Linked DNA regions of Homo sapiens. The protein of the gene in region 3 interacts with the protein of the main gene of each other region in a pairwise test. Each region holds a gene or a part of one and is shown on either strand. Other genes may lie near its edges.

What was found.
Region 1: the proteins of ROCK1 (region 3) and FRMD5 interact in binary tests that used the Homo sapiens proteins (3 or more experiments, as listed by UniProt).
Region 2: the proteins of ROCK1 (region 3) and CFAP206 interact in binary tests that used the Homo sapiens proteins (3 or more experiments, as listed by UniProt).

What each region holds. Positions count from the first base shown.
Region 1 is NC_000015.10:43,867,547-43,878,758, reverse strand, and holds the end of FRMD5 (FERM domain-containing protein 5), read left to right. Parts: intron 1-587; exon of another isoform or gene 588-2,953; intron 2,954-4,296; coding exon 4,297-4,874; 3' UTR 4,875-5,536; coding exon of another isoform or gene 5,537-5,611; 3' UTR 5,612-5,938; coding exon of another isoform or gene 5,939-5,952; 3' UTR 5,953-7,995; downstream 7,996-11,212. UniProt on the Homo sapiens protein: May be involved in regulation of cell migration. May regulate cell-matrix interactions via its interaction with ITGB5 and modifying ITGB5 cytoplasmic tail interactions such as with FERMT2 and TLN1.
Region 2 is NC_000006.12:87,423,553-87,434,764, reverse strand, and holds part of CFAP206 (cilia- and flagella-associated protein 206), read right to left. Parts: intron 9,326-11,212; exon of another isoform or gene 8,709-9,325; intron 8,240-8,708; coding exon 8,120-8,239; intron 6,140-8,119; coding exon 5,941-6,139; intron 3,733-5,940; coding exon 3,592-3,732; intron 1-3,591. UniProt on the Homo sapiens protein: Essential for sperm motility and is involved in the regulation of the beating frequency of motile cilia on the epithelial cells of the respiratory tract. Required for the establishment of radial spokes in sperm flagella.
Region 3 is NC_000018.10:21,037,320-21,048,531, forward strand, and holds part of ROCK1 (rho-associated protein kinase 1), read right to left. Parts: intron 8,149-11,212; coding exon 7,973-8,148; intron 6,868-7,972; coding exon 6,783-6,867; intron 5,391-6,782; coding exon 5,246-5,390; intron 4,917-5,245; coding exon 4,778-4,916; intron 2,245-4,777; coding exon 2,153-2,244; intron 1-2,152. UniProt on the Homo sapiens protein: Protein kinase which is a key regulator of the actin cytoskeleton and cell polarity.

The DNA.
Region 1 (11,212 bases), on a different chromosome or scaffold from region 3:
AGCTTTTCATACTTTGAAAGATCCTGCAGTCAGAGCTGTCTTCATGAAGGGGCAGGCCTTTGAAAGGGTGGCAGGCGCCCTATGCAATGGGGCTGAGGACTGCCTGGGAAAGGAGCCAAGCAAGCAATATGCTGCAACCAGGGCCTTAAGGTTTCTGCTTTATCAGTGACCCATAACCTGTCCCAAGGTACATATTCCTCAAGCTGCATGTGCAAATGGGGACATCAGGGAGGAATACTGTGGAAGAGAGATCAGAGGAACAGCAAGAGCTCTAGAACAAGGGACAGAGACTCTTAATTTCAGGTTATTTCAAAACAGTTTCTCGAGCAATTAAGACCTAAATCTAAGGTAGATGCTGGCTGTTGATTTAATCCGTCCTGGCCCATGGTTCCATTCCATGGAATCCGACTACAGTTAAGTCATCACTTAACAGCGTTGACAGGGTCTTTAGAAACTGCAACTTTAAGCAAAATGATGTACAATTAAACTTTTTTTTTTCTCATCAACATTATAACAAAATGGGGCTGGGCGTGGTGGCTCACATCTGTAATCCCAGCACAAAAACCTGTCTCTACAAAAAATACGAAAATTAGCTAGGCGTGGTGGCACATGCCTGTAGTCCCAGCTACTCAGGAGGCTGAGGTGGGAGGATCACCTGAGCCTGGGAGGTCGAGGCTGCAGTGAGCCGTGATTGTACCACTGCACTCCAGTCTAGGCAATGGAGTAAGACTGTCTCAAAAAACTAAAGAACTTTAAAAAAATTATAACAAAATGATGCTGAAGAAAACATTGGAGGACCTGCTGTAACATCATTTGGCTTAAAGTCATGGTTTCCAGGAACCTGTTGACAACATGAGGACTTAATAGATATGATCAGCAGGATCATGAACTAGAAAGCGGCTTGGATTCTATCCTTGGTTTTGCCATTAACTGCCAACCACATGACTTCAGATAACCTCTTGCCCTCACTACCTTGTGGAGTTACTGAAAGATAAAATCAAAGTGCTTTAAAAAGATGAAAGCATTATACAAATTTAAGATTTTAGCACAGGGACAAAAAATACAGCTAAGACTATGAGGAGCTTCTGAAAGCAGAGATTGAGAGCTGTGGCAAATATATGAGCCGTGACGCAATGGGGAGCGTAACTAGATGGCAGGTGCCCTGCCTTTGCCCCCACCCTCTCTCCCCATTGTCCTACTCATTCATAACCCAGATTCCAGGGCTCATTCCTCTGGAGAATCCTTAACTGTGCCTGTGCCAAGACAGGCTCCACAAGGCTGGTCAGGCAGGCTGCCTGGGTGCAAACGGCCAAGCCATGAGGGAGCCAAGGAAGATGGGACACACTGCTTCTGAAAGGTTACTAACACCTTTTTAAGAGAGACCTTTGGACTGCTTCATGTCCTGGAAGAAGGGGAAAAAAGAGACCCTTTGGGCTTCTGGAGCTAGCCCTGAACCAAAAAACTCCCTAATCAACCTGACTTAGGTAAAACCTTTACTGAGCTGGGAATCTGGTTCAGTCTGGGATTGTCAGGGACTATTTCAGGGCAACAGAAGGGGACTGGCTTTTCTTGTCATAGGTCACAAAGGCAGAGAGAACCACACCAGCATCACCAAGATGGCCAGGAGTGGAAAATGCAGACATTGAGCCTAAAACAAGAAGCCATTTCCTTGGGAGCACTGTGATGGGGGCCGCGCTCACTCACTATATGCCCAAAGCCTCTGGCCTGGGTGGCTGCTGTTCAGTTGAGAGTGTAACCAGCTCCTGTTTTCCCTGCCAGGGCTTGAGTCCTGTGAGAACCTTGGGAAGAGAGAAGAGATAATGGGTAGTTTTAGGGGATAGAATACCCCTTCCTCCTACCAAATGTAAGAGAAATCCACCCCCGCAACAAGATCTTCTCAAACTGTTTTGTGCTCTGAAGTGTCTAAAGATAGGGGAGCTTTTCAGCCTATTCTAGACCCAGCTCCTTCTCAGAGGAAAAGAGAGGGAGCTGGCCAGGGACTACTCCCATGCCCCCTCAAGAAGAGCAGAGAGAGTTTCTACCCCATCATTCCACAAAGTCAGAACAGCTAGAACGGAGGCTGAAGAGACTGAGAGCAGCTGCAGAAATCCAAAAATATTGACCTTATAAGCTCAAGATGCTGTATGCTGGGTTTTTACAAGGATATTCGGTATTTGATGAAACCCAGTTAGGCATGACATATTCCCCTTCTCCCCATTCCTACCTCTCTTTTATTAAAAATTTTATAGTTACAGTGTCTATGTTGCCCAGCCTGGTCTTGAACCCTTTGGCTCAAGTGATCCACCTGCCTTGGCCTCCCAAAGTGCTGGGATTACAGATGGGAGCCATCGTGTCTGGCCCATTCCTGCCTCTTAAAGCCCTCCACCCAACAGGCAGACTTGAGACTCAAACCGTGGTCCCAGCTCTGCATCAGGGGTAGTTTGGAATTCAGATTCTTTCAAACTGGGGTAAAAACCAGGCCCAGAGTTCAGAGTTCAACAACAAGCTTCCAAGATGCCGCCCAAAGGAAAAAGTGGTTCTGGAAAAGCGGGGAAAGGGGGTGCAGCCTCTGGGAGTGACAGTGCTGACAAGAAGGCTCAAGGTCCCAAAGGTGGTGGCAATGCAGTAAAGGTCAGACACATTCTATGGGAAAAACATGGCAAAATCATGGAAGCCATGGAAAAGTTAAAGTCTGGGATGAGATTCAATGAAGTGGCCACACAATATAGTGAAGATAAAGCCAGGCAAGGGGGCGTCTTGGGTTGGATGACCAGAGGGTCCATGGTGGGACCATTTCAAGAAGCAGCATTTGCCTTGCCTATAAGTGTGATGGATAAGCCTGTGTTTACAGACCCAGCAGTTAAGACAAAATTTGGATATCATATTATTATGGTTGAAGGAAGAAAATAAAATCATATGAAAGACTGAAAGAAAAAAAAAAAAAAAAAAAAAAACTAGGCCCAGGACACCAAAGGCAAGAAAGGCAGAATCTTTAACAAATTAGGGGCTGGGTGCGGTGGCTCACACCTATAATCCCAGCACTTTGGGAGGCCAGGAGTTCTAGACCAGCCTGGCCAAAATGGCAAAACCCCGTCTCTACTCAAAATAAAAAAATTAGCTGGGTGTGGTGGCAGACACCTGTATTCCCAGCTACTCAGAAGGCTGAGACACAAGAATCGCTGGAACCCGGGAGGCAGAAGTTGTAGTGAGCTGAGATTGCACCACTGCATTCCAACCTGGGCGACAGAGTAAGACTCCATCTCAAAACACACACAAACTAGGCCAAAACCGTAAGCAAAAAGCAAAGAAAAACTCTTCTAAAATGGCCACTGTGATTTCTGTGCCTTCTCTTGTTTCATACATACATATATATATATATATATATATATATATATTTTTTTTTTTTTTTTGAGACAGTCTTTCTCTGTTGCTCAGGTTGGAATGCAGTGGTGTGATCTTGGTTTACTGCAGCTTTGACCTCCCAGGCTCAAGCAATCTGCCCCCCTACAAAGTAGCTGGGACAACAGGCATGCACTACCACACCTGGCTTCCTCCTCGCCCCGAGGCAGAGTCTTGCTCTGTCACCCAGGCTGGAGTGCAGTGGCACGATCTCTGCTAACTATAACCTCTGCCTCCCAAGTTCAAGCAGTTCTCCTGCCTCCCCTCCTGAGTAGCTGGGATTACAGATGCCCGCCACCACACGTGGCTGATTTTTGTATTTTTAGTACAGACGGGGTTTCACCATGTTGGCCAGGCTGGTCTCGAACTCCTTACCTCATGATCCGCCCGCCTTGGCCTCCCAAAGTGCTGGGATTACAGGCATGAGGCACCACGCCCAGCCTTTTTCTTTTTTTTAAGATGGAATCTTACTCACTCTGTTGCCGAGGATGGAGTGTAATAGTGCGATCTCAGCTCACTGCAACCTCCGCCTCCCGGGTTCAAGCGATTCTCCTGCCTCAGCCCACCAAGTAACTGGGATTACAGGCATGTGCCACCAGGCCCGGCTGATTTTTGTATTTTTAGTTGAGATGGGGTTTCACCACGTTGGCCAGGCTGGTCTGGAACTCCTGACCTCAAGCGATCCACCCATCTCGGCCTCCCAAAGTGCTGAGATGACAGGTGTAAGCCACCATACCCGGCCTGTCGTCTTCTCGATATATCAAAATAGAGTGCAGTGGCTACTGCTGCTGGTCATGTGGGTGTGCAGAATGGTACCCAATAAAACACAATGGGTGCTACTGGAAAGCAAAGGGTGCATTGGGACACAGCCTACTCATGTTCCTTTTGCCTTTCTAGGCCTAGAGTCCTTACGGGACAGTGCCCATTCCACACCAGTGCGTTCCACTTCCCATGGGGACACCTTCCTGCCTCACGTGAGAAGCAGCCGGACAGATAGCAATGAGCGAGTAGCTGTGATTGCAGACGAGGCCTACAGCCCTGCAGACAGCGTGCTGCCCACCCCTGTGGCTGAGCACAGCCTGGAGCTGATGTTGCTTTCCCGGCAGATCAATGGAGCCACCTGCAGCATTGAGGAGGAGAAGGAATCTGAAGCCAGCACCCCAACTGCTACAGAGGTGGAGGCCCTTGGGGGAGAGCTGAGGGCCCTGTGTCAGGGGCACAGCGGGCCCGAGGAGGAACAGGTGAATAAGTTTGTTCTAAGTGTCCTCCGTTTGCTCCTTGTGACCATGGGACTCCTCTTTGTTTTGCTCCTCCTCCTGATCATCCTTACCGAGTCTGACCTTGACATTGCCTTTTTCCGTGATATCCGCCAGACCCCCGAGTTTGAACAATTCCACTATCAATACTTTTGTCCCCTCAGGCGATGGTTTGCCTGCAAAATCCGCTCAGTGGTGAGCCTGCTCATTGACACCTGAGAAGGCATGACTCCTCCCAAAAACTAGCCAGGTGGACCAAGGAACCCGGCTACCCATTCCCAGCAATGGGACCCATCGCGGAACCATCGGCACATATACCAAGTCCTCCTCTCATGACTCAAAGTCCACTGCAGCCTAGGAGGGTGTTTCCCAGAAGAAGAAAGGGATAGGCTCATGCCCTGTCTAAACAAACTGGGAAAACTCATTTTCTTCAGAAGTTATTTCAAGAAAGGCTCAGCGACTCTGTTTCTCATCTTTCCAATTTGCAGGATAATTTTTGGTTTTGAATTTTGATTTTTCATAGATGTATATTATTTTGAAGTATCAAATAAAAATAATTTATTTTACTATTACTGATTATTGCAGTAGTATCACCTAGCAGAGGGGACACTAGTTGAAAACTAGAGAGCTGCTGTCCTCTGTATTCTGCAGGAGCTTTTCCTGCTGGTGCCACTGGGTTCCAGTAGACTCATCACTGCAGCCTCAGCAGGGCAGGCCAGGGATCTGGACAATGGGGACTGTTTAGTTTTTTGTTTGTTTTTTTTGCCAGCCAGAACTTTTAAAAAAGTAAACATCCATGTAGAATGATTAAATGGAAAGTTGCTTCTTATGATGGTCTGAGTTGGATTTTCTTTTCCTTTTGTTTTTTCAAATCTGAGCAGAGTGGGCATCTGAAGGGACCACCGCTACAGCAACAGCAGCATCAGGGGTGGGGTAAGTCTGTCCCCTTAGTCTAGAGCCTAGTGGGCATCACCATAGTTTTGTATAATGAAACTAGACTTAACGTGATTTTTTTTTTCCGAAGAACCTCAAGACTTTTATAGTGCTCCAGGGGCGTTAAACGAATTCAGTGGTACCAGAGATAGATAGTTCTGTCAGAAATGTTGGACAAAGTGTAGTTAAGAGAAAGCAGAGTTAAGTTACCTGAGAGACTGTTGAGATTTGGATAGCAGTGCTTATTTTATATACACCCCCTTGACCCAAAGACTATTTCAATTTATATTTTAACAACGAAATGTTATTTTCTTAACAATTCATATTTTGTTTTTACTTTATGGATTAAGAAAATAGAGCCTGATGAACTAAACGATGCAAGAAAGAAACTGATCCTGAGAATGAAAAGCTTCAGAAAATAGAATTCCAAGATCAACAGCCTTAGAAGGGACCAGGAAAAGAATCTTTTAAAATAGATTTCTAAGAGATGCCTACAAAACACAGAATGTGACCGTGGCAGAGACCAACACTTAGATGTAGAAATGCTGCCCCCTAGGGTCATCCTCTGCATAAGTTCTAGGAAAGCATCACCATCCTTGCAGAGGGAAGTCCTCGAAGCACGCAGCACAGGCATATGAAGGGCGAGTGTGGGATCCTAGGCCCAAGCTCTTCAACTCTAAAACCAATCACACACAAGATCCTGTTTTCATCTCAGGGAGAGATTTCTAAGTCATCTGGGGCTTGAGGGCTTATTTAAGGGTGGTCAATGGACATATTCCTGGACCCACACAAAAGTAGAGCAGCTGCTGATACCCTAATTGGACAGCCCCAAACGCAGAACAGAACAAGTCACTTGTAGACTTGACCTCCCCTATTTTGTCCCCCGAGATGGTAGAACCATGTCCATGTTTACAATATGACAACTGTGGAATAATTGGGGTTCTTAGGGAGAGATTTGCATAATTTTAAAGACATCCTTTCATCTGGACCAGAGGTCAATCAACTTATGTCAAGTGCTACACAGTAAATATTTTGGTTTAGCACGCCATACTGTGTCACAACTGCTCAATTCTGCCATCACAGCACAAAAACAGCCACAGATAATTTGTAAATGAAGGAACATGGCTGTGTTCCAATAAAACTTTATGAAAACAGTGAGCTGAATTTAGCCTACAGGCCATAATACGCCAATCCTGCTCTAGACAATAAAACTGATCCTTACCAGTATGTTAGCAGAAGAGGGTCAGTCAGCTCTGTTTCCATGCCTGACATGTATCAAAGATCTGGGACCTCTTCCCAGTGGAGGCACTAGGGTTGCTTGTTTAAAGGGTGCTTGAACAACTAACCAGCAAAGAGATGTCTGATGCCAAATGGGCAAGATCAAATACTGGAATGCTAAAACACAGCTGGAATCTAAGAAGGGAAGAGGGCTTCTCTGACCATTTTCATACCAGCAACAATTTAGGCAGAATTATAAACATCTATTTATCGAGTGACAATACAAACCGAAGGAGATCCTAGTAGAGATTAGGGGTCAGTTAAAATCAACTAGCCACTGCCACTTGTCATCTACATAGCAAAGGCTTTATTTAGCACAGGACTAACGTGAAAAGTAGACCCAGAGATGAAAAGGCTGTCAGGAGACAGGGGGCTGGTGTCCACCTGGTATCTACTGTCTTATGCAACATAGAAGATTACCTTTTAGTGTAGTGCTCCTACCTCAGTTTGTAGAATCTGGTGTTTCTATGCAGTGAGTGATAGCCTCAACTCTGACCTTTCATATTCACATTAGAGACAGATGCAGTATTCCATATCCTAGTATGTTCCTTGTGTCTAGAGTTCTAACAGTACAGTAGTCTATGCCATTTCTAACAGCTAAATTTTGCTCTGTAAACAGAAACTTTAGGGTTGTTTTTTTCCAGGGCTCATCCCAGAAAATATGGATAGAAAAGTTTCCTTCAGTTTGCTTTTCAAATAGTGCTTGAATAATAAACCTCCTTTGATTGGTGACTAGTCTTTTTTGGTATATCTCCACCTTTAAAAATTGTTCAAGTTTTTAACCTGGTTATACTGTGTTCTAACATGTCTCTCATTTTCTCTCAAAATTAGTTTATCTCATTGTAGAAAAAGCAATGGTTTTCATAGCTTCATCTATCAGGAAATAAAACTCTTACTAAAGAATAGCATACTGCATCTTTAAGCAGTAGAGGGTAAACTACCTGCAAATGTGAATTTCTTAGATACATTTAAAAATATATAGTTGTTAACCTTCTGTGTGCCAAAAACTCTTAAGTTACATTTTCCTTCAAAGCAATGTACTTTTTTCTACATATGCAGTATGTAGTTAGCATAAAATCATTGGTGCCATGAAGATTATTTTTAAACTTAAATAAATATTTAAATATCATGGAAGAGTGGGCTCTTTCTTTAATAATAGCCTGTCTTACTTTTCCTCCCTTAAAGTTACTAACACATAGATAAAAGGATACTGGTGGGATTTACACAGCTGACTACTATTCACTTGGATCATATAACATAATTATTTTGCTTGTATCCACCTATTATCCTTGTCCTTACCCCCAGATAAATACTGTTAGAAACTGAGAAGCGGCCAGGCACAGTGGCTCACGCCTGTAATCCCAGCCCTTTGGGAGGCCAAGTCGGGAGGATCACGAGGTCAGGAGTTCAAGACCAGCCCGACCAACGTGGTGAAACCCCCGTCTCTACTAAAAATACAAAAATTAGCCAGGTGTGGTGGCGGGCGCCTATAATTCCAGCTACTCAGGAGGCTAAGGTAGGAGAATCGCTTGAACCTGGGAGGCGGAGGTTGCAGTGAGCTGAGATCACACCACTACACTCCAGCCTGGGTGACAGAGCAAGACTCCACATCAAAAAAAAAAAAAAAAAAAAAAACTGAGAAGCTATATATGTAATAATTTTAAAGTGAATTGGGTATTTTTCTGATGAGGAAAACCAAGAAGACTAAGTGATTTTCCCAAGATTACATAGTGGTAGAGTCCAAACTAGAACCCAGATTGTCCACCTTCTGGTCTGCTGTTCTTACTCAAGCCTGGAGTAAGTGGGAGCACAGAAAATACTTTCTAAGAAGGAACTACAATGATACCACCACCACATATTTACAAAATATATCCCTATAGCATTATCTCATCTGATTATGTAACCATCACTCTGTGGCTACGGAATTGGAAATGGTCTTCTAAATTCCATGAGGATAAGAGGTGATAATGGGGGCTTGGTCCACTGTGCTAGCTTCTTACCTAATCTTTGTCTTTTCAATTCTGCCTGCCCTCCACTCTCCCATTTCTGTTGCCAGATCATCCTCCTAAACACCAATCAGGCTATGTTACCTCCAAATTTCAGAGGTACCCACTACCTAAAAAATGCTATCTAGCACCCTATCCCCAGCGGAATTTTTTGTTTTTATGACATAAGATTTTGCTTGAAGTGATCCAAAGAGTAAAAAGCACAAGAAACACTGGACCTGGGTGGCTTCCCGTGGCCCTGCCGATTCACAGCAGCCTCCCTTCTGCTGACAGCTTATCAAGAACTACCTGTGCACACACCCCTGTAGGACTCTAGTCCCTACTCCCTCTGCTTTGGGTTCCTCTAGCACAATCTAGCTCCTCTGCACCTGAACACACTTTTGGTTTTAGCTCATGAACAGGCTTCCTCTTCAGACCCCTACGACCTGCTGATGGAATGGAGTAAAACAAGCAAAGCACCCTTTTAATAAATTTCCTCTTGCCCAGTTTCCATTTTGGGGAAAATGTATCATAAAATGTTTTGTTCTTCAGCTCCGTGTAAGTGTACTAAATGTTATCTTCCTCATAAATTCTACCTTTTCATTTGAAAATCCAAGTATTTACAGCCAAATAAGTCAAAATACAATCTGCTGTCTTGTTATTTCTAGCCATCAACACCCTACTAAAAAGCAGGGGGAAATGTACTAAGTCAGAAAGGACCGCCCAATAGGACATTGAAGTTTTTGGAATCTGAAGTTAGAGGGCATATATTTCCTCTTCTCAGATTGATTCAGAAGGCATGTGTGTCTTCTCCCCCACCCTACCCCATGTACTGTACATTAGCTGAAAGGATTTAAATCCTTGTATCCATAGCCCTAAGGCTCCCTGTTTTCCTGGAGAACTCCCCTTGCAAAATCTTCTTGGTGGAAAGGAAGCTCAAAGACCAGAATACTAAAATAGGACTTAAGCAACTCAGATTCTATTAATTCCTAATCATTTGTGGTCTCTCCTAGTCTGACAAAGTCTCTGACAACCAAAAATGAGAATTGTCTGCTCCTTCCTTAAAAGTTACATAACAAAAGCCTGGGTATCTTAAAAAAAAAAAAAAAAAAAAACTCAAGCGGAATTCAGAGCTTAAGAGATATCATAAAGGCCAAACTTACAGAAAAGGCTTATCCCGAAGGAGGCAATCATAATACACACATAATTACAGAAGCCACACAGCTGTAGGCAAGTCTGTGGGAGAAGTACCTTTCACTACAGATTACAGTGTAAGAATGTCCCAAGGGAGACAATTTTCTTTTATGTGCTGTCTAGATTTAAACAATTACTCCATTAGAAAGCTTATCACCAATAAAAAAAAAAAAAAGTCCCTACTCATTCTCCTTCCTTCCTGCACTGCCTGAAGATATAACTCTATAAAGTATAACTGAATATAAATAGCACTGTTTATGAAGCCACAATGGCAAAAGAAACCACAAAAGTGAGGAACATCAAGAATTTGCTAACATTTATTGACGAGCCCAGGCAATTACTGCCAAGTATTCAAAGCTTAAATGATGGTACTAATTTGATTGAGAGTAGTTTTCAGCATCTTTAAAAACAAAAACAAAAACAATTCCCGTAGAACTAACCACTCTAGAACCCATGAGATTAATTGGTATAGAAATGAAAAAGGGAGCCTAAAGCCTTTACGATGTTTCCTGAACAGTTTAATTATAACTCAACCTCACCTAGCTTTTCTTTCCCTTTATAAATTAACATTTCCATCTCACTTGTCAATTCTTCTACTTATATCAACTAGAAAATAGAGAACTATTGCTTATAAACACCTAAACCTATTAAAAAACTAAACCTTTTTACACTTAGATTACAGAGAAGAAAATTATTTAGAAATTGGTTTTCAAGGAAATTGTATATCACTATATTTCTCTGATATACAATTATGGGAAAATATTTCCTCTTAGAATTCAAACATATTGCCAAAGCCATTTACAAGTCTTTCAGTATTTGGCAATGAAGAATAATGAAAAAAGTTGGATAGATGTCACACAGTAATATTAGTAACTGATTTGGCAGCTCCCCTCCCAACAACAAACACATTGAAATTACCATAACTTCTGAAAAGAAAACATTTTCATAAAATACCAAAAGTGGTGAGTATTTCATAATATTCCCCCAAATACAAGTAAGAATGAAGGTATTCACTTAACAGGCTATTGAATTTCCTTCGGACAGTTTAAAGATCGGGACAGGTAAGCCTGGGGCCTTCTTCATTCTAAGCAGTAGCTTTAACTTCTTTATCCATTACCCATGGTACTATAGTAATAAAATATATATATATATATATTTTACATCAGA
Region 2 (11,212 bases), on a different chromosome or scaffold from region 3:
GCACTTTGGGAGGCCAAAGCAGGCAGACCACCTGAGGTCAGGAGTTCAAGACCAGCCTGACCAACAAGGTGAAACCCCGTCTCTACTAAAAATACTAAAATTAGATGGGCGTGGTGGTGTGCACCTCTAATCCCAGCTACTCAGGGGGCTGAGGTAGGAGAATAGCTTGAACCTGGGAGGCGGAGGTTGCAGTGAGCTGAGATCGTGCCATTGCACTCTAGCCTAAGTGACAGAGCAAGACTGTCTCAAAAAAAAAAAAAAAGAAAAAGAAAAAGAAATATTGTTACTCTGTGTTTGTAACATACCATAGAGCCATTCCTCATCCACTCCATTTTTTTTTTTTTTTGAGACTGTGTCTCAAAAGATAAGTTGATAAGACTGCGTCTTATCAACCTGGCTGGAGTGCAGTGGCGCAGTCTCAGCTCACTGCAGCATCAACATCCCGGGCTCAAGAGATCCTCCTGCCTTACCCTCCCAGGTAGCTGGGACTACAGGCATGTGTCTCCCAACCTAGCTAACCTTTTTTGTAGAGATGGGGTTTCACCACATCACCCAGGCTGGTCTCGAACTCGTGGACTCAAGCGATCTGCTCACTTCGGCCTCCCGAAGTGCTGGGATTACAGGCATGAGCCACTGTTCCTGGCCCTTCCACTCCTTTTTTTTTTGAGACGAAGTCTTGCTCTGTCACCCAGGCTGGAGTCCAGTGGTGTGATCTCAGCTCACTACAACCTCTGCCTCCTGGATTCAAGCAGTTCTCCTGTCTCAGCCTCCTGAGTAGCTGGGATTACAGGTGTGCACCACCACACCCAGCTAATTTTTGTATTTTTAATAGAGACGGGGTTTCATCAAATTGGTCAGGCTGGTCTTGAACTCCTGACCTCAGGTGATCCACCCACCTTGGCCTCCCAAAGTGCTGGGATTACAAGCATGAGCCACCACGCCCAGCCCCTTCCACTCCATTTTTAACATATCAGTTATGCTTTTATTTTGCTAAAATGTTATAATTATCATTTTAATTTATACATTTTTAAATGATATGTGAAATACATACTAATTATATTTTTATGTTAAAGTATGATTTTAAACTGTATTTTATGTAAAAATACTTTCCACTATCCAGATATAATAATTGTAAAAATCTTTTATGAAAAGCCACTTACTCATCTGGTAGATTTTTCAAAGCTACTTCAACTAACTACTGCAAGGACTATGTTTAAAATAACCCAGTAAGAACTACAAAAATGGGACATCTTTTCCAAAACTCAAATTTGCATATTAGCAAATATTTTTCACTGTAAAAAGATACTACATAGACTATAGATAATTAAATATCCACATAGTTTGTGGAAGTTGTATTAGAAAGAGCAACACTGTCTTACTCATTTATTCTTTCATTTATCCAACAAATAGTTATTGACCATGTTCATGGTGCTAAGGCTATAGAAGATAACAAATTCCCTGCTCTCAAAAAATCACAAATATATCATAGGTCACAGAGTGACATGTGCTACATGAAAAAAATAATAAAGCAGGTTAAATACATAGTAAAAGGAAGAAGTGTGCAATTGATATTTTAAATTGAGTGATTAGGGAAGGCTGAATAAAATGAGGCAGCAAGGCGATTAGCAACCTGGGAGGCAGAGTTTTTCCAAGAGTGCAAAGGCTCTGAGGTGAAAGTGGGCTTCAACTGTTCAACAACAGCAAGAAAGCCAGTGCCACTGAAGTGGAGCAAACGAGGCAAAGCGTGGTAGGCAATGAAGTCAATGAAGTCATCGGAAAAGGATTCTGACTGGTAAGTGCCAGTGTTACCCTGGGATTTAAGGCATGTGGTCTCCACTCCTGAATGGAAGAAGGGAAGTTCTACAGAATTCATCTGAGGTAATGCAGGTTGCTGCTGCCCAGAAAATAATGAAGTAGAAATAATGTAGTAAGCAGAAATCGTCAGAATTCACTTATCCAGAGAGGAATATGAAACTCATGGCCCCAAAAGCTCTTCTACTTTTCTACTTCACCCTCTTTCTTCTTAGACCCAGAGTTGGGAGACCCTGGAAGGGACCATACAGACCTCCTGGTTGATCCTTTTCATTTTCTTGAGGAGAAACTGAGGTCCACAGAAGGTGTGAGATTTCATAAAGGTTACCTAGTTCACTAAGGACACAGACCAGGCTCTTCTGAACCCTAGCCCATAGCTTTTCCAACCATATCATTGCTTCCTCTGCCATCACCCCACATCCGTGTTTCTCCTTTCCCTTCTTATTTGTGTGAAACAGGGAAGGAAGGAAGGAATGGAGAGGGGGAGGCAGGAGGGGAGGGAGAGAGGGAGGGAGGAGAAAGAAAAGGAAACTATCTACATTCCATTGCATTTTACTTCTGCATGGCTCTTGATTGTTTTCTCCCCAGTATCAGTGACCCTCACTGGGCCTCAGAATATTACTTTCAACTTCCCACAGTAAATATTTTGTTATTCCCATTATCAAAAATGTAATAACATTTTTTAAATGAGCCAATTGTGTGTTCTCTCTAGCCTGTATACCCACAATCCCAATAGTTATTTTTAATGAAAAAATACCCAATTGTGAAACATAACAAAAGAAATAAAGAAAAAAATAATGAAGAAAGAAGAAAAATAAGGTTAATGGCGTAAAGTAAATTAAGACACAATCTTGTCACACTGTTTTCATTCTAGCCCTGGCAGGCTTTTTCTTATTCACAATTCACACAGCACTTTTTGGATGATAATTTCTTTCATCTCTATCTCTGATTTATTCTTTATTTTGGAGAAGCTCTAATAATATATACATCATAGAGAAATTTTACTTGATATTAGCCATTTCCTTATAGGCGTCTAACAGAGAAATCCTATCTATGCCAGTGAAATATAACTGCAAAGTAACAAAGAATATTTTTTAACAAACATGTCAAATAAGTGTTGCTCTTTCAGTAATTACTTTGGAAGATATATTTTTAGTAATGTTGTGTAACATTTCTTTTGTTTTATTTTTGAGACAGTCTCACTTTGTTGCCCAGCTGAAGTGCAGTGGAGTTATCTCAGCTCGCTGCAATCTCTGCCTCCCGGGTTCAAGTGATTCTCCTGCCTCAGCCTCCCAAGTAGCTGGGACTACAGGCGTGTGCCACCATGCCTGGCTAATTTTTGTATTTTTAGTAAAGACAGGGTTTCGACATGTTGGCCAGGCTGATCTCCAACTCCTGACCTCAAGTGATCCACCCGCCCTGACCTCCCAAAGTGCTGGAATTATAGGCGTGAGCCACTGCATGCAGCCAATGTCGTGTAACATTTCTAGAATTCTTCATTGGCCATATGAGTCATCCCCTTTCAATGGTACTGCAGCATCCATATTTCATAACACATATACACTTTCCATTACTAATCACTTATAATTTCTTGCTTATGTCAGTCTACCAGAGCACCTCCAAAATGAAGACTTTGTCTGGATCATCTTTGTAGATCCTTTGTTAGTTCACCATTAGATTCCATAAAGTTTTTAAAGTGAATATTCAAGTGACAATGACAGAACTCCATATAAAGAAAAAATCGGGGAAAGGAGAGCAGTCTCATTTCCAATGATATACCTGGAAGGAGAAGACCATCTGTTGCAGCAAACGTGTAAGCACAAAATCCCCGATATTGAATTAACAGTTTATCAAAATTTGCTGTTGTTTCTGGGAAAAGCCATTCTAGTTTTCTGAAATCTGCCACATTTACTCTATCTTCTAAAATGAAGGAGAAGAAGAAAAGCTTTAATTCAGTGAGAAGGTTAAATTTCCAAAATAAATCAGCAGTAGCTCATTCTAAACATTACCTTTTTATTGCTTTGTACTTTTCCCGATGGGCAAAAACTTGATATTCACAAAACCAGATTTATGAGGAAGTCTATTCAAGCAAAGAAGTACAAATGACCTCAGTGACATATAACGTCACGTAAGTTTCTGGGGCAAACTTGGAGGTAGGATTTTGCTCCAGAATGAAGAACAGAAAGGAGAGGCCATTTCTGACAAGCATGCTCTGCTGCTGAGAGAAAAGCTGACTGGGGCACTTCCGAAAGTGTGTGGTGCTTCCTGCTGCTGCAGAGTAAATAACCCAAGGAGTTGAGCAGAATAGACTGGCTGCTATGTGACCCAGAAAGAGATATATTGACCTCATTCAATATAGTGTTGTTCTTAATAATATGCTAGGTGGCAAAATATGTTTAATATGATGCTTATAAACTAGGACTATTGCTTCTTGAAACAACAGAGAAGGTTCTGAGCAGAAAGTCAAGAAAATGTTACCTGATTTTGATAACAAGGTGTGTAATTTTTGTTCTTTATATTTTTAAAAATTCTTCCTATGTTGGTTAGCTTACCTATTTACATTTGATAAGCAAACTGAATAAATTTTTACACAAATAATACCACGTATTTATAAAACATTGTTCCTGAAGTTTCTTAGCTTTCACAATCTCACGTACACTTCTGTGCCTGGTTCTAAACCCAAAAAGCAGGCACCACAAACGATCTTGTGGCTACCACTAAAAGTAAATGCATAATTTAGAGAAAATAAATCCTCTCTCTTTTTTCCTGATATGCCTGAAAGCCTCTAACAATGACAATATGTGGCAGGTGTAAATGAAATTCTTTTAGAACAACACTGGCTTGACCAATTCAATGGAGTGGTAATTTAATAGTGTTCTAGTGAATAAAAAGTTCTGACGTATGGTAGAAAATGACACATCTAAATCTAAGAAGTTGCAGGTAAACAGTCTTGCCAATATGGTTAGCTTAATATACACTGTTGGAGATACTTTAACTTTTCAATTTCATTTAATATTTGCTTACATATGCTGCTTTAATGAAATGAAATGAGCAATAAAAAACTTGAACTGAAAGGATATTTTTTAGTTTCTGGTTTAGTTTTCAGTTTTTATGAATTCTAATAGTTTGGGAAATGACTGCTATATTTTTATTTTTCATCTTTAAAAAATAGAATTTGAAAAGAAAATTCATAGAGTAAATTATTAATTTCAGTTTCTGAAAAAACTCTCTTTTTATGCAACATCAACATCTCAAGTCCCAAGCTCTTTTTTGGCATTCCTCATAAATGTTAAAGTATCTTTAGCTAAGATAGAAGGGTCTAAAATGGTTAAAAGTTTATTGATAAAGATTGTTTTTCTGTAAGAATCAATGCATCTTCTAAAGGACCTAAATAAGCTCAATTAATTTTACAGGGATAACATTTATTGGTTTGTAAATTCCCAACTTGAATCTGAGGTAGATATATAACAAATAACATTCTAAAGAAATGGAGCTTTATTTGCAACAAAATAGCAATGATTAATATTCTTTTCTCCAACAAATCAATAATAAAATTACTAGGACTGCAATAGAAACACATCTGCACAAAAAATGATTGTTAACCAAAACATGAACGATAACACTACGAATGGTTATTGCTGGACAGTAAGTTATTCAGTTTACATTTTTTCTGTTTTCCACATCTCCTCTCATAAACATTAGTGCTTTTTTTTTTTTTTTCTTTTTGAGATGGAGTCTCACTCTGTCACCCAGGCTAGAGTGCAATGGCACAATCTTGGCTCACTGCAACCTCTGACCCGCTAGGTTCAAGTGATTCTCCTGCCTTAGCCTCCCCAGTAGCTGGGATTACAGGCGCCCACCACCATGCCCGGCTAATTTTTGTATTTTTAGTAGAGACGGAGTTTTGCCATGTCGAACTCCTGGCCTCAGGTGATCCACCCGCCTCGGCCCCCCAAAGTGCTGGGATTACAGGCGTGAGCCACCACACCCGGCCCTCATTAGTACTTTATAATCAAGAAAAATGTTTAATGCTTTATCAGAAAGATATGAAATTTTTAGAACAAAAGAGTGACTTTATTCTAGAGGTAATTTTAAAAAGAAGAGGAAATAATGGATGATTTTCATTACCCATGTGTTCTTTCATTCTACACACATCAGTTTTCACAGTCGCTCCATTAAGATGACATTGCATCACTCTCTCAGGAAAGTATAGTTCGTGAGCACCCAAGAATGGCTGAATGTGAGTGAATAAATTACTGAGGACACCAACCACAATAGTTTCGTCTTGCAAGCTGGTCCACAGAGTAGAAAGTGCAATGAAGATAGGCTGAGGAAGAGAAAAAAAATATTCAAAATGCAACTGTGTAATAAAATTATAAATCACTGTACTCTTTAAGATAAATACAATTGTCATTTGTAAAGAAGTTAATTCTCCCTAAGCAAAAGTCTTACGAACTTAGACAGTAGACTTTAGATAGACATTTAACTCATAAATTATGAGAAAATAAACTTGCATTTTATTTCAAAGCATTTTATTTTAGTACGATTATTATAAAGTTAGTTTACTTTAAAAAGCCAAACACATGTGATCACCTAAGAAAGATTTATGGACTCTTCACCTCAAAAAACCAAGGGAAAAATGTCTTAAGAAAAAAAAAAAAATACGGCCAGGCACAGTAGCTCACACCTGTAATCCCAGCATTTTGGGAGGCCAAGGTGGGCGGATCACCTGAGGGCAGGAGTTCAAGACCAGCCTGGCCAACATGGCAAAACCCCGTCTCTACTAAAAATACAAAAATTAGCCAGGCGTGGTGGTGGGCACCTACAATCCCAGCTACCCGGGAGGCTGAGGCAGGAGAATCGCTTGAACCCGGGAGGCGGAGGTTGCAGTGAGTTGAGATCAGGCCATTGCACTCCAGCCTGGGCAAAAAGAGCAAAACTACTTCTCAAAAAAAAAAAAAAAAAAAAAAGGAGGGTGGAGCAAGGTGGCAAAATAGAAAGTTCCCCCCACGCACCCTGCAAGGACACCAAGTTAACACCTATTTATACAGAAAAAAACACCTTCATAAGTACCAAAAATCAGATGCTGAAGATGTGTTTAGAGGAGAATGAACACAAAAGTGTCACTGAAGACCATTTTTTGTTTGTTTTCCTGACTGATCATCTAATAAAATATAACAATATTAAGAAAGTAAAAAATAAATTAAAAAGCTAAATATGACTCACTATAATTAGATTTTTTCTGGCCAAATCATTGCAAAAGAACCTGGAAAGTATAGAGATATATCTTGGGCCATGTTTTGTGAGCTGCAAGTTAAATATTTGAGGCCAGTGAGATATGTTTCTTATTCCTATTAAAGGTCACTGACTTATAGAACAAATGAAAAAATCAATAAGGCCCCACATCTAAGTTAAACAATTTAGCCTTTTGTTTCTTGGTTTTTAAACCAAATACTGGGGATGACTGCAGAAAGTTATTACAGCCTCATATCCTCTATAATAATACTACATATAGGCTGGGCGCAGTGGCTCATGCCTGTAATCCCAGAACTTTGGGAGGCCGAGGCGGGCAGATCACGAGGTCAGGAGATCAAGACCATCCTGGCTAACACAGTGAAATCCTGTCCCTACTAAAAATGCAAAAAAAATTAGCTGGGCATGGTGGCGGGCGCCTGTAGTCCCAGCTACTCGGGAGGCTGAGCTAGGAGAATGGCGTGAACCCAGGAGGCGGAGCTTGCAGTGAGCCGAGATTGCACCACTGCACTCCAGCCTGGGCGACAAAGCGAGACTCCGTCTTGAAGTAAATAAATAAATAAATAAAAATAATACTGCACATACATTTTATACCTCCTTATCCAGATAAGGTTTGCCAGGTTTGTCCATAAAATGGTGCAGATAATCAGAAACTCAATGTAAGTGCAGGCCTGGTAAACAAAGTGATTATTATCTGTCTTTTCAGAAAGGTCACAAGTTACATCATCTCTGTACTGGAGGCAATTTCTGACCAGCTACTATGAATACATTTTCAACCACAGTACAATGATTATTTCTGTTGTCACAGCCAATACTGATATGGTTATCATACTATACAGTTGCAGTTCCTTTAGTAGCAGTTGCTTATGTGGGGGAATTCTCTCATCCAACTTATAGCACACTATTACGGCAAAGTAACCATAAAGAACAGGATCAATTTATACAAAACATTATATTTTTAGAAATTAAATATAATTATAATGACTTGCGATCCAATATTATAGGGCTCAAAAGGAAATTCACCTTAAGGTCAAAGTTTATGACAAATACTTACAAAGACTTGTGATGTTGGGACCGCTATCTTTGATTTTATGGTCATTTTTAGTTGTTCCAGATGGGCTCCTAACTGTTTTGTCATCATTTCCACTTCTTGAGCACCAGTAATTATATCTGACTGTGAAAACAACATAATTTGCATTAATATTTTTATAATTCTACTATAAAAATCATATGTGTTTCAGACCATACCTGCTCCCCACATCCTCTGAAAGTAGGCTCAATGACAGCAGGAAGTCTGTTCTCCGCAAGATCCTCAACACCTAGAACAGTACCAGCATATGTATGGGGCTCCCAAGATATTTGTGAGATGGATGAATCTTTTGAAATACAATAGGTATAATTTTTCTTAAATGTATACAGGTATTCTTAGATTTAAATATAATTGCATTCTTGAGAAATGGATCCTCAAGAATCCGTTTTTGTATAGCTGTTATTTTCCTATTCCTCAATGATAAAATTAATTAGGGGTTCCTCTGAAAATTATGTTGATAACAAGATTTAATAAAATCACATTGAGAAAAACCTGTTAGGAGTGAGCCAGCAGGGCACTGCAGGTTGGCAAGCTAGTGAGATCTCACCTGTGATGTATGCCATGTGGTTTAGGGGATGCCAGAATCCTTGTACTGAGCAGGGGATATTCTTGAAGACCCTGTCATAGAGTTCATCATTGAAATGACTCACAAGGCAATGTGAATTGGAAGATGAGGTTGAGTACAAGTTTACAATATTGTTTTCTTGATTTGAAGGGACCTAAGGAAGTTTGCTAGGGTTAAAGACTTGATTACTATGAATGCAGAACTGAAATGAACTGGAAAACCATTTGACGAAGTAAACTATGGATCTTGACACCTTTTGTACTTTCTGAAACTTCATTATCGTCTGGGGGAAGTACATATATTAACTGTATATTTTCTATAGTAAGGTCCTGATAGATATCAAGCCATGTAACTGAAAGATGGAGAAACACAAAGTTTTCAGTTTTTATTTTCATGCCTTCAATTTTACGGTGATCTTTGAGCCTTTAATCGCCTGTCTTTACATAATAAGCATACTTGAAATACTTCTTGGGTTTCAATGATCACACATAATAAGTTAAAGTACCTTGTAAACCATTTATTTCCTTCTGACTTTTGACTATCTAAAGGATGAAGTAGTATTTATATGTTAGCTATATTTGTGCCATTGTAAGCTATACTGTAGCTATTTATTATGCAAGATCTAAAAGATATATTTGACTTTATGATAACTAAGACATGCTTCATGTATCCTAAAGTTTTTGGACAACAGTAAACTGAAAGGTTATTAAAGGTAGTGAACTGGTTTGTGATCCTTCTAAGGAGATGATATAGAAAAATACGGTTCTTTGTAAGAATTTGTATCTGTCTTAAAAGAAAATTTGTCTTAATATTCTTTTCTTCTTATAACAAGAGTGATTATTTTTCAAGAAACTAAAAGTTTCACGTGAATGCTTGTTGGAAGGCATTTTTGATTTAAAACCTTCTGAGGCTTATAAAATACTATCTGTTAAGTTTTAGGAGAATTCATTTTCCCATATCAGATTAAATCTTCTCAGAATAAATGCTTTCAGTAGCAAGAACAGTTTTAAAAGTTGATGACAGGATAAGCATTTGGGATAGTATTCTATTAACATATTTCTAAGTACTTGTTCACTGTGGAAATGTGTACTTGATTAAAACATATATGGCTATGGAATCTGCTTTTGCAGTTCAGGATATACAGGTTTGTGTGTATTTAGCTTATTGTAAAGCCCTTACCTTAAAATAAGGATTAAAATTACATTTAAATAGATCACTGAATGTTACTCTTTGTGAAACTGAACTTTTTGTATGACACAAACATTATAAATCAACACTTGGGAAACTTTAACTTTCTTAATCTATTGATACAAGGAATAAAGTATGAAAAATTAAACAGAAAAAAGTCGCATTGAAGAATGCAGAAAATCTTAAAAGTCAGAGCATTGAAAGAAAAACAATATATTTGATACAACAATCATGGTCTGAAAATAAGTTGCTAAACACTGAATTTGAAATAATTATATTTGGCCAGGCACGGTGGCTCACGCCTGTAATCCCAGCACTTTGGGAGGCTGAGGTAGGCGGATCATGAGGTCAGGAGATCGAGACCATCCTGGCTAACACGGTGAAACCCCATCTCCACTAAAAATAAAAAAATTAGCTGGGCGTGGTGGCACCTGCCTATGTCCCAGCTACTCGGGAGGCTGAGGCAGGAGAATCACTTGAACTCGGGAGGCGGAGGTTGCAGTGAGCCAAGATCGAGCCACTGCACTCCAGCTTGGGCAACAGAGCGAGACTCTGTCCCAAAAAAATAAAAAAAAATAATTATATTTATTCTTACTATGTGCTAAGCACCACATTAAATACTTACAAATACAAAAAGGGATAAGTACAAATGAGAAAATCAAAGAATAGTAAGGTAAGTAAATTGTCTAAGTATATGCAGCTAATAAGGGGTAGCAATCTTGGTGGATCCCAAACCATCTGAGCCCACAGCCCAGCTCTTAACCATTATACTGTGTTGCCCAAGATGTCACCAGAAATGGTTGTGGTGTGGGTTTATCAGTATAGCATAAAAGAATGACATCTATTTGAAGAGAAAAAGGTGCATCTGAATTCTCAGACATCTGTATGTAGCCTAATTATATGCTTTCTAGACTCTTTTAAATGACAAAAATAATTACTTCATGAGTACTATCAACTATTATCATTGTATTACAACTAACAAATTTTTATTCATAAATGTAACGTGTATCCTGTTTAATTTTACCCATACTGCTGTTTAAGCTTTACTCCTCCTCCTGCTTTATTCCTCCATACACTATTATCTATTATATCAAATAGGTCTCTTGTCTACCCTCATAGAGTTTTTTCCCCCTTGCTTGTTAAGTTTTGTTTTAGGAATCAATACGAAAATGCAGTCTTTAAAGTCTTTTAAGATTTATGCAACAGCAACAAGAAACAGGAATACATTTGCATACGTTCTCCAAAATAAAAGTTGCATTCGACATGCAATACTTATTAAAACCTACAATTAAAAATATCCTAAG
Region 3 (11,212 bases):
CATTGCAATGTGGAGACATGTTAAGTGGTAAAAATACCAAAAAAAACTATTATTTGTATTAGAAAGCAATTTTGCCACGGAAAATGGAAACCCAAAAAAATTAAAAGGAATTATAACTGTTACATAAGTTTTAAAAATTTAGCAGGTCAAAGAGGTCAGTTCAGAATAAAAGAATTCTTGGTATTTTAGGGGTGGGAAGTAAAGAAGGGGTAGGAAGAGGGGAAGGGAAGCAAAGAACAATAAGTTCTACAGATTTCAATTTTTCTTTGTTTTTTCCAATAACCACAAAACAGGACCTCTTAGAATTAGGAAAAACTACCAAAATTCTTTTAAGTATGCTAAATCTAACCACGCTAGAATAAAACCATAGATAATGCAGATCTTAAGTAGTTTTATGAAGGAGGTACAGCAATATAATAAAATGCCACTGATCTGGACTCCCTAATTCCATAAGACTATGAGCTCCAGAAGGGAGAAAGAAAACTTTTGGTGGTTTGATCACTGCTGTTTTCCCAGTGTCTGAAATTGAACAGTGATCAATATACAACAGGTGTTCAGTAAATAGTTGTTGACTAAATTACCTCCTCTTTCAAGTGATCGGTTTTTCAATACATAAAAGGAAAAATATCCTTGTTACTTTTGCGGTTGATTTATTGTGTGGTTATTCTATAATTATTTATGCATTGCTTAACTTTGAAAAAGAATTTAAAGCAATACAAAATATTATTTTGTATTTTCTTCAGTCCCCTTCAAAGTTTTATTCAGATTTATAATAATATTTGTACGTCTTCAGCCTTCTTAAACTTTACTAAGAGAATAACCTGAATAAAAACACAAAAAGTGTTTTGATGTAACCATTTCTCACTCCCTGATCATCTCTTTGTCATGCAACAATTTCACTTGCAGCATGAAGATAATAATTATGTCACATTTAATTCTGAAGAGGAGGAAGTTCCTTATTTCCTAGTATATAATTGCTAATAAAATTCTCCCAAAGTCAAGCTGCTCTTACAGCTTCTCAGACAGCTGGTCATTCAATGATGTTCTTTGTTGTATAATTTCTTAATTTCCAGAGGATTTATTTTCCCTTTCTCCTCCTTAGACAATTTTATAGCTCAGCACAATGTAAGTACTGTGCTATAGTACTTGAAGGCAATACAATTGTTCTTTTAAAATATTTGATAACTAGAATGCTTCACTAATATTAGCAAACCTACATGATTTATTTCATCAGAATTAACAAGATTTCCATCTCTCTGCAAAGTACTATCCTTCACTGTCTCAACTAGATAGGCAGTCCTTAAGACAAATAACTACTGTGTAACTTTCTAAAATAAGGTAGCTGAGTTCATTTCCATTGTTACTATTCACTGCTATTGCTAAGGCAGCAAGTTAGGGACTGAGATACATTATCCTTTCTCTGATAGATGAACAGGGAAAAAAATCCTAAGATGTCAGCAGGGGAAAGATGAATTCTTTACCTCCCAAATCCACGAAGATGATGAGAACCTTTGGTGTCATGATAATTTTGATTCAGCTATGTTGTAGAGTTTTCTGTGAATCATCTTGTAATTTTAACTTTTTTTAAAAAGTAAGAAAGTGTTCTAAACTGACTGAAAATTAGTTTCTTATACAATACATTTTTGTTTCTGAATTGCCAGCTGCAAAAGCCTGATGGAATCAAGTATATCACAATATCCTATAAACTCATAAATAAAATTAAATTGAATTCTGGAATTAATAATAGAACCTTCTTATATTTTGGGTTTTAATAAAAACAAGAGAATAACTTGTCTTCTCACAAAAACATATATTTTAATCTCATTACTTACTACTTATTGACCACCTCCATAATAAGATAACTAACGCCTAAAATGAACAATTCAACAAAGATCAAATGTAAAATTATGACTGGTGAGCCTAAATCCATTACATTTATATTTCATCTGGGTATCCTGCGTGGGACATAAGAGGAGTAACAATATAATCTGCCCAATATTATCAAATTAATAGGTTAGGACAATTCCCATATAGTATTTGTGGCTTCTGATTTTCATCAGATACACACAAATATTTAGCAATGTAGTTTCAACAAACTACCACAACTACTTTCAAATATTCACTAAAATATGAAAGAAAAAAAAAAACTTACTGTCTCGGAGCGTTTCCCAAGCCCACTGGTCATTTTTGAAGAAGAGATGTCGTTTGATTTCTTCTACACCATTTCGCCCTAACCTCACTTCCCTGAATAATGACAGAAGGAGAAAAGTAATCAATCATTTAAGATCTTATTATAACCTGTCCAGGTTTATTTGTGGGCAGGATATTAAATCAGTGTAGGACGACAAATATAGTTCTAAGGTGAAATTATATTGTCAGCATAGTATCAGCCCAAATAGAAAATATGTTAAAGATTGAGAACATTAAAGAATTTTTTTAAAAGAAAACTAAAGAAAGGCTGGACATGGTGGCTCATGCCTATAATCCCAGCACTTTGGGAGGCTCAGGTGGGGTGGATCACCTGAGGTCAGGAGTTCGAGACCAGCCCAGCCAACACTGTGAAACCCCATCTCTACTAAAAATATAAAACTAGCGGGTGTACTGGAACACGCCTGTAGTCCCAGCTACTTGGGAGGCTGAGACAGGAGAATCGCTTGAACCCGGGAGGCAGAGGCTACAGTGAGCTGAGATTGCGCCACCGCACTCCAGCCTGGATGAAACACAGCGAGACTCCGTCTCAAAAAAAAGAAAACTAAAGAATAACTACAAAAAACACCCATGACTTTTCTACTGACAACAAAAATCCAGATTAATCACCACCTTACTTCATTAGCAAAATGAATAAAGCACCATGCATTTTCTTGACAGTTTTTTGTGTGTGTGTGTTATTTTTTTCTTACAATGGTAAAGTTAGGCTTTTTTTTCCCCAACCAAAACTTTACTTAGGCAGCAATACCAGATGCTACCAAAAACCTCCAGAAACACATTTAAAATTTTGAACTTCCAATTTATAATCTATTAATTATTTCTGACCATTCAAAAGCCAATGACTACTAATTCTTGATACTGCCACAGAATTCAGAGCTTTCACTGGACAAGTTACTGATACCAGCCTCTTTTTTGGTGAGCAAAAAGTTTTTAAAAATGTGATTTTAGCTGAATTGGAAAAAGAAAGTTAGCACCTTTTTTCCCTAGTACAGTGCTTATAAATAAAGAAAATACTCTAAATTCTAAGTTTTTGCATAAGCTAAAAGATAAGTTGGCTTAGACATGTGACAATTTTTCCAAGAAGCTTTCACTAACTCTCAAACTGGATTAGAAAACCTCTCCATGGTTCTCCGGCACATGGTACTTATCTCATGGTAATTAGCTGTGTGTACTATAAATGTCTGATTTGCTTATCTAATTCCCCCAAAGGACTATGAGGTATTTGAGAAAAGTGGCTCTGTATCTTCCTCACTACTATATCCCTAGCACCTAATAAACAGCATAATACAATGCTTTATATTAAAATGTAAAAATTGGCCAGGTGCGGTGGCTCACACCTGTAATCCCAGCACTTTGGGAGGCCAACGCAGGCAGATCATGAGGTCAGGAGTTCAAGACCAGCCTGGCCAACATAGTGAAACCCTCTCTATCAAAAATACAAAAATTAGCCAGGCATGGTGACAGGAACCTGTAGTCACAGCTACTTGGGAGGCTGAGGCAGGAGAATCACTTGAATCCGGGAGGTGGAGGTTGCAGTGAGCCGAGATCATGCCACTGCACTCCAGCCTGGGCAACAGAGTGAGACTCTGTCTCAATCAATCAATCAATCAATGTAAAAATTAGCCAGGCATGGGTGGCTCAGGCCTGTAATCCCAGCACTTTGGGAAGCTGAAGTGGGAGGATCACTTGATCCCAGGAGTTTGAAACCAGCCTGGGCAACAGAGCAAAACCCTGTCTCTATTTAAAAAAAAAAAAAAAAAAAAAAAGTAAACATTTGAAAAACCATACTTCAAGCTCTAAAGGACATAATGAAGGGAGACAAGTTAAAGCAAATCTCAACTTGAAACATATTTAAAAGTACTAGGTCTCCCTAATATTTAACAATATACAATCATAAACATTAAATATAATCTTACTAATACATCTGGTTCACTTTCAAATTTCAAAAGTAAACCACAAAGGTATATATAATATGCCATTTTTCTTTCAAAAATGCAGACAGACATTATTATTAAAATGCTTGTTGGATCTACAAGATGGAACACCAACTATTATGTCTAGAAGAAAAAAGATAGTATACTTTTAAAAATGGCTTTATACTATTGACTCTTTCAACAACCATATACCATACATCATCAAATCTAAAATGGTTTAAAGTATAAGGTGTATCACCGTTTTTATACCACTATGAAAAAGGATGCTCCCAACTCATACCATTGACTGTGAGATGTACTCTAATTTCAGAGATGTTATGTTAAAAAATTTTTTTAGATTCAGTAAAATACACAGTAATTTTTATAATTAACCAAGTTAAAAATTGAACAATAAAAGAAAAAAGTCATCTAGTTTAGCCATCAGCCAAGACTGTATTATTATCACAATTTCTTAGGTATGATAAGTGAGTTGAGATCTACAAAAGACATCTAGAATATCATAAAATTACATCAGGTTTCACTGTCATTTATATTCTAACAATTTACATGTAGAAGCTCAGATATGGACCTTAAAAATGGAGCAGAAGATGAGAAGTCCTCAGAATTAATACAGGCTCAGTTTTAAAATTATTTACCTGTCAGTAAGGAAGGCACAAATAAGGTTTTTTGCTTCTTTTGATATGTCATTATCATCAGGAAAGGTAAGTGAATTTTTATGGTTCATAATTTTACTGTAAGTTCCAACCAAAGAATCTGCATAAAAAGGTGTATCACCTGAAAAATTGATAAAGAAAACAAAAGCAAAATGAAATACATTTTTAAAAAGTCAGTTTCAAAGGAAGAGTCAAAGTTACCCGTTTAAAAAGATTATTAGGTATGTATTAAACTAAAAACATACACCTAATATATAAAAGAACACATCACAAAGTTGCTCTAAGCCTCTAAATGCTTTTAAAAACACATACGAAGCAGGTTTGGATCATGTTTATTACCCACAAATAAAATCAAGATTGCTTAATATAATAAATATATTAGAAAGAGCCAAGTGGCAAGTTTTGAGATGAACAACTGTAATAGAGAGACATAAAATCTTCCTTACTCACCTACAAGCATTTCGTATAAAAATACCCCAACCGACCACCAGTCACATTCTCTTCCATAATAACCATCACCACCTTGGGATTTTAATACTTCAGGGGAAATATAATCAGGTGTTCCAACCGCTGTATCACATCGTACCATGCCTTCCTAAAAAGCGCGGCAGGTCAAATTTTGAATTAGGATATAAAGTCTCAATTATTTAAAATGACTTTCTTATTAATATTACCTATGGGACTCCAAATCTTTGAGCTATAAAATATCATATATTAAAACTGAATGGAAACCTGACAAAAATTAACACAGCTTAATCATATATATACATACTATATACACACCATATACATATATACCATATAATGTATGTATGTGTATACATGTGAATGCATATACACACACATTATATGTGTATTCACATATATACACACACCAGTGATTATTTTGTAATAATGCTCACTAGAAAAACATACTGCCACATTTATTATTCCCCAAGTTGTGCCAATATCATGAAACCATTTAACTGCTGAGAACAAGTACACAGGCCAGTGCAAATACACTGGGGAGTTCATAGGATAGGGCATTTTACAACATATTGGTATAAACACTGACTTCATTATTTTCTACTAAAATAGCTATTTAACTATGTTTGAAACTACAAAAGAAACATACAAAAGCTGACTGTACAAATACAAACTGGGGAAGCATATGTATGGGAAAAGGGCATAATAGTGTAAAGCACACTGAATGTCTATTTGATGTGAATTTTAACTGCCCTCCCCCAACAAACCTGAGAGACTTGTTAGCTGTTACCTATATTCGCTGGTATTAATGAAACAGCATTATAACTAAATGTTCATACAGAAGTTCTCATGCAGTGTTTCCTTCACTGTGTATATGAAGTGAAGGAATAACATATACACAGCTCCTTCAGCTCCTTCAGCTGTGTATATGTTATTTATTATATAAATAACATATTTATTTATGTTATTTATTATATGTATATACATATACATAATGTATATGTATATACATATACATAATATGTATATACATATACAGCTGTGTATATGTTATTTATTATATAAACAGTGAGGATAGGTATCTTTTAAGACTCACTCCTAAAATAAGCAGTAAAATCTTTTATATGTTAACTGAAGTAAAACACTAAAAAATACACACATTACTGGAATCCAATTTTTATGAAAGTCTAATTTTAACACTGGCATAAGTATTTAGTGACATTTAAGCTAATTCCATTCCTAGTTACCAGTAGTGTATATTAGAGTTGTTATGAAGGATTTAGTAAATCTGGCAATCCATATTTACCCTAAATAGAGAGGAAAAAATAAATCACTAACAAGTTACTAATACAACATTGAAACCATGGTATCTAGTTCAACAAATAAGGTCATATTAATTCTGGACAAGTCCAGCTATGGTTAGTAAATTCTTACACCATTTTCTAAAGAATTCTTAAACCATTTTCTAAAGAAGCATCTACCTTGAATTAGCAAAAACTAAATTAAAATCTAGTTAATTAACCTTATTCATCTTCATACAAGTACCAAAATCTGCTAACTTCAAATGTCCAGATTTATCCAGCAGCATGTTATCAGGCTTCACATCTCTGCAGGAGGGAAAAAATAGTACAGTATTTTCTGAAACAGATTAGACACTGTAAAAATTATATGAGGCAGTTATTTTAGGTCAAGCATCCTCAATCTAGGTAAGGCCATCTTTGATCTGTATGTGTTCTCTATCCACATCTATAAATTAAATTTCATCAAAGAAACTTCTTTATATGTTAATGCCTCAGAAGAAAACATATATATTCCTTTTTTAAAAGTTTCATTCTTTCAGAGGGAAAATCAAATCATTTGAGAGAGACAGACCATCAAAAATACAACACTCAGACATAAAAGGTGATTGAAACATATTAGATAGGTAAGTACATAAAAAAACCCCACGGCAGGGTCTAAGTCACTTTCATTTTTGATCCCTGACATGTAGGCACAGCAACTGCACACAGGATTCAAGCAGTGTTTGTACAACAAATGAAACTATTCGTCTAATGAATAAATACGACCTATTCACTAATTAAAAGCAAATTAAGTTACATATTTAAAAAATTAACATCAAAGTGTTTAACTCCTGGCACATACCTTAGAAAACTAGTTTACAAGTTTTACTTTTCAGAACACCATTTAAAGGCTATATGATCAGATTAAGGGATATTAAAGAATACATTTATATCAACATTAAATTGAAATGCTAAAATTATAAACTTCAAAGTTTGGAGTTCTTTTTTTCCCCCCTTCCTGACATAGAATCTCACTCTGTCACCCAGTCTGAAGTGCAGTGACTAGATCTCAGCTCACTGAAACCTCTGCTCCCAGGCTCAAGCGATCCTCCCACCTTAGCCTCCCAAGGAGCTGGGACCACAGGTGCATGCCACCACACCTGTGTTTTTTTTTTTTTTTTTTGTAGAGATGGGTTTCACCATGTTGTCCAGGCTGGTGTCAAACTCCTGAGCTCAAGAGATCTGCCTGCCTCGGCCTCCCAAAGCTCTGGGATTACAGGCGTGAGGCAGCGCCTGGCCAGAGTCTTGAGTTCTGAAAGGTCACTTATGTCATACGGAAGAAGAATGGGTGAACTGAGAGTAAGAAATGTTAAAGTTATTTTTAGCTATTTCCCTCAACAAATGAGAAAATTTAAAGCACTTTTATCTTTACCTGTGAATAAAACCCATGGAATGGATTGCATCCAATGCAAGAACTACTTCTGCAGTATAGAATCGTGCCCATTTTTCAGGCACATCATAGTTGCTCATTAAGTTTACAAGATCTCCACCAGGCATGTATTCCATCACCATGTAGAGATAACGATCATCTTGGAATGCATAAAAAAGCTATACAAATAGAAAAAACAAACAAAACACATTCATTAATGTTAAACAAAATTGTTTCACTTAAAAAGTGGCAAAAATGTTAATAAAAGATTTAAGTAAAATAATCAAATTACAGAAGTTGCAAGTCTAGTTTTAAAAAAAGACAAACATAAATGCCACAAAGACCCTTGTATATGCAAAATGACTATAACATAATTATTCAGAAGAGTTACATGGAGATATCCTTTCTTCATAATTTTCTACACTATTTGAATTTCTTTTACTGAGAATTTTTTTAAACTGTAATATTTTCAGTAAATATACAAATCTCCTAGGCAAAGAAATACTGTATTTCTAATTTAACTTGTGCATCAGTGGGGTCTACTATTAAATTTATATCAATATCACAATGCTCAAGAAGTCTTTGATAAATTTGGCTTACAGTTTCAGCTGTTTTTTTTTTTTTTTTTTTTTTTTTTTTTGAGACGGAGTCTCGCTCTGTCGCCCAGGCTGGAGTGCAGTGGCGTGATGTCGGCTCACTGCAAGCTCCGCCTCCCAGGTTCACGCCATTCTCCTACCTCAGCCTCCCGAGGAGCTGGGACTACAGGCACCCGCTACCACGCCCGGCTAATTTTTTGCATTTTTAGTAGAGATGGGGTTTCACCGTGTTAGCCAGGATGGTCTCGATCTCCTGACCTCGTGATCCGCCCACCCTGGCCTCCCAAAATGCTGGGATTACAGGCATGAGCCACTGCGCCCGGCCTCAGCTGTTTCTTATTAGCTGTGTGACTAGTAATTTGCTTAACCTACCCGAGTCTATGAGACTATAATCTCTTCTAAAACACTGTAAGGACTATACTTCGTTTAACTTTTATACCTGCTGCTTAGTCAAGTATCCAGATGCCTGGCGGTTAGCAATTGCTTAATAAAGGCTTAATGAACCAAATCATAAACTAATCCATAAAGTAACAGTGCACCTAACAGATTAACTGTCTTTCAGGGTTGAGGGTTGTTAAAAAAGATTACTGAATATAGAAAGCACTTAGTGCAACAGATGCTCAACAAATGACAGCAGTCAGGAGGAGGAGCAGTAATAGCTAACACAGAAGTAGGAGGAAGGCAGCAGCTAGGGTTCAAATAGTAACAGCAAAATCCACTAATGTGAAATTAGCGAGGATATCAGGCATAAATATATTATGTGACTGGGGATCAAATAAAAAGAAGGGCAAATTTATAAAATAACATTTTAAGTAAATACAAGAAGTTTAGAATTAAACTAAAAAAAACAAGCCCTAGAGAAGATGATCTCTAATTTACCCAGATGTTTGTCTTAAAATCTTCTTAATGTTTCATTTTTTTCAACTGTGTTTAATAATTTTAGTTATAGATTCAGTTACTTTGTTTTGATTTTTTGTTTTTTTGTAGAGATTGGGAGCCAGTCTTGAACTCCTGCCCTCAAGTGATCTTCCTGTCTCAGCCTCTCAAAGTGCTCAGATTACAAGCATGGGGGCCACCACACCCGGCCCAGACTCAGTTATTTTAATGTAAAAAATGTATTTTGGGGGAAGAGAGAAGGATAAGAAACAAAGTGGCATTTCATGACTATCCCAGATTAAAGTATATAATTTGTCATTTGGGCCCCATAAAGAAATACTGTTAATTTGGTGACAGTTTCACCCTATTTATAGACAATATATCCAGAGAAATAAAGCTCTGAATACCTAAATTGTAAATAGCCCTGAAAGTAACAATTATGTCACATATTTTTTCACTAACAGACACTGAACGTTCATGTATCAGTGGTTGTTAACTAGTGGTGAAAACATTTTTGGTTGTCACAACTGTGTGTGAGGTGGGAAGAGTCACTACTAGCATCCCCTGTGTAGAGGCCAGGAATGCTGCCAAACATCCTAAATAAACACATTAGTAACTGAAATAATATAAAGGATAGCCCCCAACAACAAAGAATTATCTGGCCCAAAATGTCAATAGTATTAAGCCTGAGAAACTCTGATCTACATAGTTGGTAAAAACATAGACATTTCAAGTTTAAAAGTACTATGGTGACCGGGCACGGTGGCTCACACCTGTAATCCCAGCACTTTGGGAGGCCGAGGCAGGCGGATCACGAGGTCAGGAGATCGAGACCATGCTGGCTAACACAGTGAAACCCGTCTCTACTAAAAATACAAAAAATAATAGCCGGGCGTGGTGGCAGGCACCTGTCGTCCCAGCTACTCGGGAGGCTGAGGCAGGAGAATGGCGTGAACTCAGGGGGCAGAGCTTGCTTGCAGTGAGCCGAGATCGCACCATTGCACTCCGGCCTGGGCGACAGAGCGAGACTCCGTCTCAAAAAAAAAAAAAAAGTGCTATGGCATAAACCTTCAACATTTTTCATATCCTTTTAATTCCAATTACTGGTATGCTTTTTAAGGACAGACTTCATTATATATTATAAATAAATCACAAAAACATGTTAGAAAATTAGAAATGGTCTAGCCCAGTTTAACTTCCCCCGTATGACATTTTGCATTAAGGATCCCAATACATAAGACAGATAAAACATGAAGCTGAACTCATAAAAGCAGAGAGAAAACTCAGAATTATAATCTACCCAAAACCCCACTTGACCCCATGATTTTGCCTAAGGTACCTCCACAATTGAACATAACCAATCAAAGACAACTTTCAGACTTATGAACAAGGAAATTGTGGCCCAGAGATGTTAAGTAACATGGCCACAGCTTCAGAGAAAGGCCTATGGCAATCAAGACGAGGACCTAAAACTACTGACTTCTAGTTTTTCTTTCCACTGAAAACCGAAAGACAAGTATTATTTGGTGACCTAGCTTAACTTGGTTTCCTCTCACTTTCCCTTCATTTCTCTTATTATCTCCTCTTCACAAAATAAGAGACAGATAAATGAGGAGACAGCTAAACAAAATGAGAGCCTCATGTTTGGGGAAAAAAATTCAATATTAACTAAAAGTATCTATTTAAATTTTAATAATATACGACTTCCCTCAAATCTAAGTAGATTAAGTTTTCTATATCTTCTGTATTTAAAAATATCTAATTTAAAATT